Linked DNA regions of Homo sapiens. The protein of the gene in region 2 purifies or fractionates together with the protein of the main gene of each other region. This does not show direct contact. Each region holds a gene or a part of one and is shown on either strand. Other genes may lie near its edges.

The links. The genes of interacting proteins can lie anywhere in the genome.
Region 1: the proteins of LRP1B (region 2) and HRG purify together in Homo sapiens (affinity purification with mass spectrometry, with the first as the bait; one study listed by BioGRID). This does not show direct contact.

Annotation. Positions count from the first base shown.
Region 1 is NC_000003.12:186,672,513-186,676,399, reverse strand, and holds part of HRG (histidine-rich glycoprotein precursor), read right to left. Parts: intron 3,614-3,887; coding exon 3,533-3,613; intron 1,312-3,532; coding exon 1,210-1,311; intron 1-1,209. UniProt on the Homo sapiens protein: Plasma glycoprotein that binds a number of ligands such as heme, heparin, heparan sulfate, thrombospondin, plasminogen, and divalent metal ions. Binds heparin and heparin/glycosaminoglycans in a zinc-dependent manner.
Region 2 is NC_000002.12:140,353,138-140,357,392, forward strand, and holds part of LRP1B (low-density lipoprotein receptor-related protein 1B precursor), read right to left. Parts: intron 3,340-4,255; coding exon 3,205-3,339; intron 1-3,204. UniProt on the Homo sapiens protein: Potential cell surface proteins that bind and internalize ligands in the process of receptor-mediated endocytosis.

The sequences.
Region 1 (3,887 bases), on a different chromosome or scaffold from region 2:
AAAAAACTTCATTATCCTTATTTTTTTTTCATTTTTACTACACAGAGTGGTGAAACAATATTATGACCTGGCACCCATCTGTAGACCAACACTGGAAAACTAGTGCCTTATAACTGATATTCTTAACTGAGGCTTGATGGTATCAACATCCCTTACTCCTAAAGGCTGAACACTTGACCTCTTCTCTCTCTTCCTTGTTCAGAGTTTAATTTTTTAAAAAATAGCTACAGAGGCCGGGCACGGTGGCTCATGTCTGTAATCCCAGAACTTTGGGAGGCTGAGGCAGGTGGATCACCTAAGGTCAGGAGTTTGAGACCAACCTGACCAACATGGAGAAACCCCTTCTCTACTAAAAATGCAAAATTAGCCAGGTATGGTGGCGCATGCCTGTAATCCTAGCTACTCAGGAGGCTGAGGCAGGAGAATCGCTTGAACCCAGGAGGCAGAGGTTGTGGTGAGCCGAGATGGCACCATTGTATTCCAGCCTGGGCAATAAGAGCAAAACTCCTTCTCAAAAAAAAAAAAAAAAAAAAAGACAGAGCCATGTTCATGGTGACAATCCTGCCCTTTGTTCCTTTTTCTTTTTTTTAACTTGGGATTGGATGTTTGGATTATTTTAAGTTTTGTTTCTGATATGAAAAATTTCGTGAAGCAAATCTTTGTACTCATGTAAAAAATAGACCAAAGATTTCTGAGACAGATGCAAAATATGGTTTTGCATCTTATTTTATATACATTTACATAATAAATTTGAGGCTGATATATTCCTCTTAGATTCTATGCCCAATAATATAAGCTTAGGAATGACTAAGTCTCAGCACTAGAGTCCCGACTACAAAGAGCATTTTCAAATTCCTTCAAGTTTGGTTGAATTGGACATGATTTTAATTTTCTGCCAATTGTTACCCCTCTTCAATTCTTGGAAAAGTTTTCATACTTTTTGTGTAATCTGGCAATTGCACTCCTTTCCCCAGTTGTGGGATACTCTCTGTATCTTTTTTCTTGCATGTCTGTCTGTCTCTCTCTTTCTCTCTCTCCCTGTCTCCCTCTCTCTGTCTCTGTCTCTGTCTCTCTCTCTCTCTCTCTCTCTCACACACACACACACACACACACACCCACTCATAGAGCTTTAGGAAGCAACAACACTATTTGTGTACGTATGTCACTTAATCTGGCACTGCCATGACAAAGTCTGCTTAGACAACCCACCTGAGGGTCGAAGACTTCACAGTTTATGACAAGGTTTTTCGGGCTTTCCAAGTCCAAGGCTTCTACATCATAGAACAAATCTGCTCTGCAGAATCCAAAGACCTACAAAGGAATGAGGAGCTGTTAGTGTGTGTGTCCAGGTGGTGTGAAGATGACCAGCCAGAGTTAGCTTCCAGACATTCAGAAAAGGAAGAAGTGCTTTAGAAAAATCAGGGTAATATGATCAGATATTCCCACCAGTCGTTCAGCAATCTTTCCTTGTTAACACTTTGGGGAAAGTGCAGGTGGTGAAGGGTATCACTAAAGTTGCTGTGGTTTTTTTCATGAGCAGGCACCAGCACTGGGCTTCCCCATGGGTGATGGAAATGATGAGGAAAACCACATCATTGCTGCCTTGCCTTTAGGCCAACCCTTCTGCACTGGAGACCTCAGTTGCCTGTGCCTAGGACAATGAGGAATGGTGTCAAAGAGGGATTTTTACAACTTCAGCTGGTCCCTTGGAGGAAAGTGTTGGACAGGAGGGCATCTGTATAGCATAAAGATGGGTTTTCATGGACATTGTCAAGGCAAGTGTCTGCTGACTCCACCCAAGTGCCAGGGCTACAACTGGCTGCCACTCCTGTGCTCCAGATGCTCCTAAACCCACCTGTGAAAGATCGACTAGGACAAGAGGACGGCTGTCTGCTAGAAGAAATTGCTAAGCATTGAGGTTCTGAGTACAGTTTGGGAATCAGAGAGACCTATGTTAATCCTGGCTTCTCCATTTCCTAGTTGTCTGAGTTTGGGAAAGTTACAAAAGATTTCTGAAAGTCAGCCATTGTAAAATGGGGATAATACTATGTACTCACAGGTTGTGGGAGGGATTAATTAAACAAGAGGATGCTGTAAAACACTTACCCCTGAGCCTCCTCTTCAGCTCTGGTGCTTCAACTCTGGGTTTACATTATCCACACCAAGATCATGAAGGGTTTGTTGGCCATAGGAGTAGGGGAGGGAGGTGTCTTTTCTGGTGGGCGCTAAGAAGGTTTCTAGACCTGGTTCAGTGTGGACATTAGAAGAGCTAACAAAGGTACTAATGGATGGTTTCTCCCTTTTGACCAGGGAGAATGTGTTGTTAAACCTCAGAAAAATCCTGGACTTGGCATCATAATTAAAATTCCATTTCCTAACACTCTCTAGCTAAGTGCCTTTAGGTAAGTGGTTTTAATTTCAGGTCCCCTTGTCACAGGAAATGTAGGCAGATACTTGCTTTTCCTTGTCAGCAGGATTTTCATGAGGCTCTCCTGGCAATAACAGATGTGGAGGTGTTTCTTTAACTGTAGGTCACCATGCAAATGCCAGGTGGTATTAATAATGTCTTCTGGCAGGTACATGGGAATCTATTTGTAAATGATTAGAGGAAAAATCCCACTGGACTTTGTATGAGAATAACTAAGTTTTAATCTCAGCTTGGTTGTGAACATCGGCAAGACCTTTCCTTTGCTGATTTTCAGTTACCTCCTCATTTGTCAAGTGGGATTCCTGTGAGTGTGATGATGTGGAATTAATAAAACCACTTGGCGTAGGGTCTTAGTACGAACTGCTATAGTTCTAACTAAGCCTTTAATCCTAATCAGTTAGAAACTTAGTTTTAAGTTTAGGTATATATCATGTATATTATAAAATCATGTTCTTATGGTTCGCTTATGTTCTCTGTGCCTCAGTTCCCCTATCTGCTAATTTGGGATTAAAAATGGTATCTATCTCATATGGTAGTGTGAGGGTTAATAAGTTATCATAGGCTGGGCATGGTGGCTTGCGCCTGTAACCCCAGCACTTTGATTTGTAATCCCAGCCGAAGTGGGTGGACACCTGAGATAAGGAGTTTGAGACCAACCTGATCAACATGGTGAAACCCCATCTCTACTAAAAATACAAAAATTAGCTGGGCGTGGTGGTGCATGCCTGTAATCCCAGTTACTCCGGAGGCTGAGGCAGGAGAATCGCCTGAACCCGGGAGGCGGAGGTTGCAGTGAGCCGACACTGTGCCATTGCACTCCAACCTGGGCAACAAGAGCGAAACTCCATCTCAAAAACAAAACAAAACAATAAGTTATCTGATGTGTAAATCACTTAGAAGAGTGCCTGGCAGGTACTAAGTGCTTCCCAGATGATACTTTGTATTTCACAGACATTTCTTCCTCCTTCTCCTCCTCCTCATTTTCTCCTTCTCATTCCTCTTCTCCTTCTTCTCCTTCCTCTCCTTCTCCTTCTCCTTCTCCTTCTTCTCTTTCTTTTTTCTCTGTGACTCTAGTCAACGATCACAGACATTTCTTATACTCACATTGGGGTGTCTGGGGAAATGGTGTCTGGGGCAGTTCCGCACAGAGAAGTCCACGAAGTAACCAGTTCCTTCCCCTCCTCTCTAGAACAGATGGGATCAAAATAGTTTCAAGAACAGACAAAGAAAAAGGAAAAAAAAGCAGTAGATAACTACCATTCAATATTTTTTAAGGCAGTATGAGAATTCAAAATCACCAGTATGTGTCATTTTTTAAAATGGTTTCTGCCTTTTAAAAATGTATCACCTAAGTGATAAGGTGAATACCAGTTCACTGAAAAGGTTCAAATAATAAATATATGATAAAGTAGAGTGTGAAAAATCACCTCTCCTGCACTCCAACTTCTTCCCAGAGTTT
Region 2 (4,255 bases):
TTCAAAAAAGCCAAAATTATTTTTAACTTATTACTAGCTTTATTGTCCTTTCACATCTTTAATCTGTGACCTGCTGTGTCATATTTTTGAAGGTATAATCATTTTTCACAATATTTGTAGTAGAAGATTTATCAATTGTCATTGCTTTTATTAATCCACTTAAAATATTAAAGCTTCAATTTCAAACTTCCCTGGGGCTTTCTTTTTTCTTTCTTAAAATTTTTACTTATTTATTTTTTTACCTTTTAAGTTCATGGATACAAGTGCAGGTTTGCTACCTAGATAAACTTGTGCCATGGGGGTTTGTTGTATAGATTTCCATTCACGCAAATAGACCTGTCTTGAGGTTTTCTTTTAAGCTGTTTCTGATGACCTACCTCCATGCCTTCGAAGGTATCATGGGCTATTCTTTCATCCCGTAATGCCCTTGCCCACTTTTCCATACAGAATTTCTACTCATCTTTCAAGATCCACCTGAAATAAAGCCTTCCTTGGTCTCCAACCATATATGGGAGTGATGATTCATCCTTAGTTTCTCCAGTTTTTGCTCTCCTGGTGTTTCTCTCTTACACTGTTGCTTATATTTCAGGAATGTGGTTACATATTCATATTCCCTTGAGGACATAAATTATGATACATTCCTTTTTTATTGCCAGATTTTGCACAATGACTGGCAGAGAACAAAGATTTGGGCACATCTCTAACACACTTCTGGACTCATATATATGAAGTGACTACGTAACAAGAAGGGCTGTATTGAGGTTATGTGATGTGAATTAAGCAAGCAAAATCTGCATGCCTATATATGAATAAATACCTCTAAATCACTAGCATAAATAAATAAATCACAGGCAGTATTCATGTGATTTAATCAGAGTCATGTAGCTTGGCACATGACTCTAATTTTAAGGGCTTATGAAGAGCCAGGATTGAGGCCAGGTGATTCTAGGGAATTATCTAATTTTCCTCTCTTTTCCTCCTCTACTTTTGTGTTTAGCCAGCATATTTCCCCTGCCTCATTTTATCACTTATAATCTCCTAATTACCTAATAAATCTGTGAGATAAATCCTTCCCTTGAATTAGAGAACTTAAGAATCAGCACAGTAAGAATAACTATCTTTTGCGTAGCACACAAACAATGTTCTAAGGGCTCAGAGGTAGAGACACTTGTAAATCACAACGTCAAGGCTTAAACTCAGGTTTTCTGATTTTGTTGACTTTACTGTGATACTTTGCCTAAGAACACATAAGCATTTTCATGACCACACATTGCTATTTGATTGAAATGTAGAGTAAAGAGATGCAGAAAAGTGTATTTCGTTGTTTTTAATAAATATTTTACAGGAATGAAGTAGAATGCATCTTGTCAGTACTTAACCATCACGATTACAACAAATATTTCTGATTTGTTCAGCCCCTGTAACTTTGAACCGGCAGTTATTTGTCACTATGGTTTCCCTTTGGTACAGAATCCAAATAAGCAGTATTCTGCATGATTTCATACAACCTCAACTTCCTCACTTGTCATTATACTGGCCTGAACCATCATTTTCGCCTCATCTCTAGAAAGCCTGGATCATGAGCTTTTGAAGGGGATGGAGGAATTCCACACATGCCTAGTACCCAAAACAGTACCTGGCACTCAGCAACTGTTAATCCCCTTCTAATTTTCTTCCACCATTCCTCTTTACTTTTTTCCCTTTAGATATTCTAATTGAAGTGTTTGGGCTTTAACATCAAATAGCAATTTCTTATGCATTTTTTCAGATACATAAGTGAAGGGCACAAACAAATTTAAATTTTTGGATTATAGAATCCAATTATGTCTTACCCTTCTTTGACACTGAAATAGAACTATTTTCCTTAAAATCAAAACTTTATTTATTAAAAATAGATGAACATTTTATTAGAGTTCAGAAGTTACTCGTCTGTCCTACAAAATAATACAAAAAAGTGGATTCATAGCAATTTAAAATAAAGAATGTAGTGTGCAGGTTATATTTGCTGTGGAATGTAATTAAAAATTAAGAAAACTTTAATAATATAATTTCTAAATTTAGTACATATATACAGAAAAAACCCACTGACAAATATTAGAAAATAAATGTTATTGAAATTAAAATATTGAAAGAATTGTGTGTGTGTGTGTTTATATGTAATTGATAGAAAGAGCCTGGGAAAAATAAATACCATAGTTTGAAAGATAATTCATTTTTTAACTAAAACACAGAAAACCTAGGTTGTCATCTTTCAGTCTCATAGTAATGGAACAATCAAATGTCACGAATAATCCAAATACACATTTAACTCAAAATGTAGATAAACATGACGTGACTACACTTTTTCCCCTTTTGGGTGAGTAGAATCAATTCATTTAAATAATTCCATTTTGATTAACACGAAGTAGAATCATTTTTCTTAACCTCAAAATATCACAAAGAGACATAACAAAAGCAAGCTGGTAGGTAAAAGCACTTAAAGACTTGAATTTAGCCTGGATAAGCCAGACTTAGTTATTTTAGGTTTGGCTGTACTTACATTAATATGAATATGAATACAAATAGCAGTTTTATTGGAGAAACTTGCAGAAAGTGCATATGGGTCTGTATTTCATGGTTCTATAGTTAGAACACTGATGTAATTATATTTACTTACTTACTATAAGATTTTGGCTATCCTACATGCTCAATTTTTAAATGATCTCAAGTAAGTTGACAGATTTATGTAGATCCTGACTTTGAATTTTTAAAGATACATTATGATCTATTTAAAACATGGTTTTAGGACAAAAGCCCATGACTCTCTAAATGTGATTTACCTATTCCAGTATTGCAAATTCCACACTCAAGAGAAATGGGTCATCATAAACATATTTTTTCATGAAGCAAGACTAATTCTCCAATAGTTCCTGAACCAGGAATTTCGTTATTTGCATTTCAAAACAGTATTGTAGCAATAGAATTGAAATTCCTGCAGCTCTGAATTTGCTATAGAAAAAGCTTTGTAGCCTCTGTCGTGGTTAGCTTAGCTCCACAAACAAGCTCTTGACCCCAGAGACTTTCATTCTCATAAGTGAAATGGTATCCCGTAGATACACACCATTTTGATGAAAGTCAATCCCCTGTGATCTCACAATTTAGAAGTCTTGGGAATCTTCATAACCCAAAGATTTATGAGCAAACTGTTGAAGAAAAGTACTCTACCTTCACATTGTCTGTTTTTCATGTTTCTCTGAAATCCAGGCTTACAGCGACAGAAAACAGATGTTTTTATTTGATTACAATATGCATCATCTCCACATGGATTCACATTATCTTCACAGGTATATTCAGTAGGAGCTGGGATTTAAAAATATGATCAAAACTAATATAATTCTAATTCCTGAAGTGGGGAGTTAACTTTTAAAAAATGTTTGAAATGGTATTTATTATTCCACAGATAACTCTTTTTGAATGTACAAGGTTACGGTCTTCTCTCCATATAAGCCCCCATGTCTTATAAATGTATAGAAGTATAAAAACTAAACTCATTAACATTAAATACAGATTAGACCAAGCTGCTAACAGTTGATATTTAGAGCTGCTGTTAAGCTGTAACACTTTTTAAAAATAAGTCAGGAGTCAATGATTCTAATGACAGGCTATCTTTATTATAGTACGATATATGAGTACTACATCCTTCTCTGAGAGCCAAAGCATTTCCTATAAGCTACCTAGAAATTTAGGCATTTATTGCTAACCTAAGCTTAATATTTGTAAACTCAATCAAGGGTACTGCTAAGTTACTCAAGCAAGTTGTCTAAATCAGCAGTTTAAATTTCATTTTTTTATGCTGGACATACATATGAAGAGTAACATTTGAGTGTGTAATGTGCTCATAATGGTTGGTCATAAGCTGCAACATTTTAGGACAGACAAAAAGTTACTTGTAATTTCCAGGATAGCAGTTGCAATTTTATTACTTTATCTCCCATTCAGGAAAACATTTTAGAAGGCCTTCTCTTTTAAATAAATGAGAGGGACATTATTATAGAGACATCATATCATCTCTAAGTTACTTAAATCAAATTTTTGAGAAATGTGAGAACTTTAATTATTATCGTTGTAACCCCACTGACTTGAATATTTTGCAATTAGTTAAAATAGGTCAGTGGAATGATACCATGGTTTAGACACATGCAGCCATATCCTGGTGGGTATTGCTTCATCCCTAAATGAGGAAAGTTTTAGATGCATAAATTAAAAAAAAAAGATG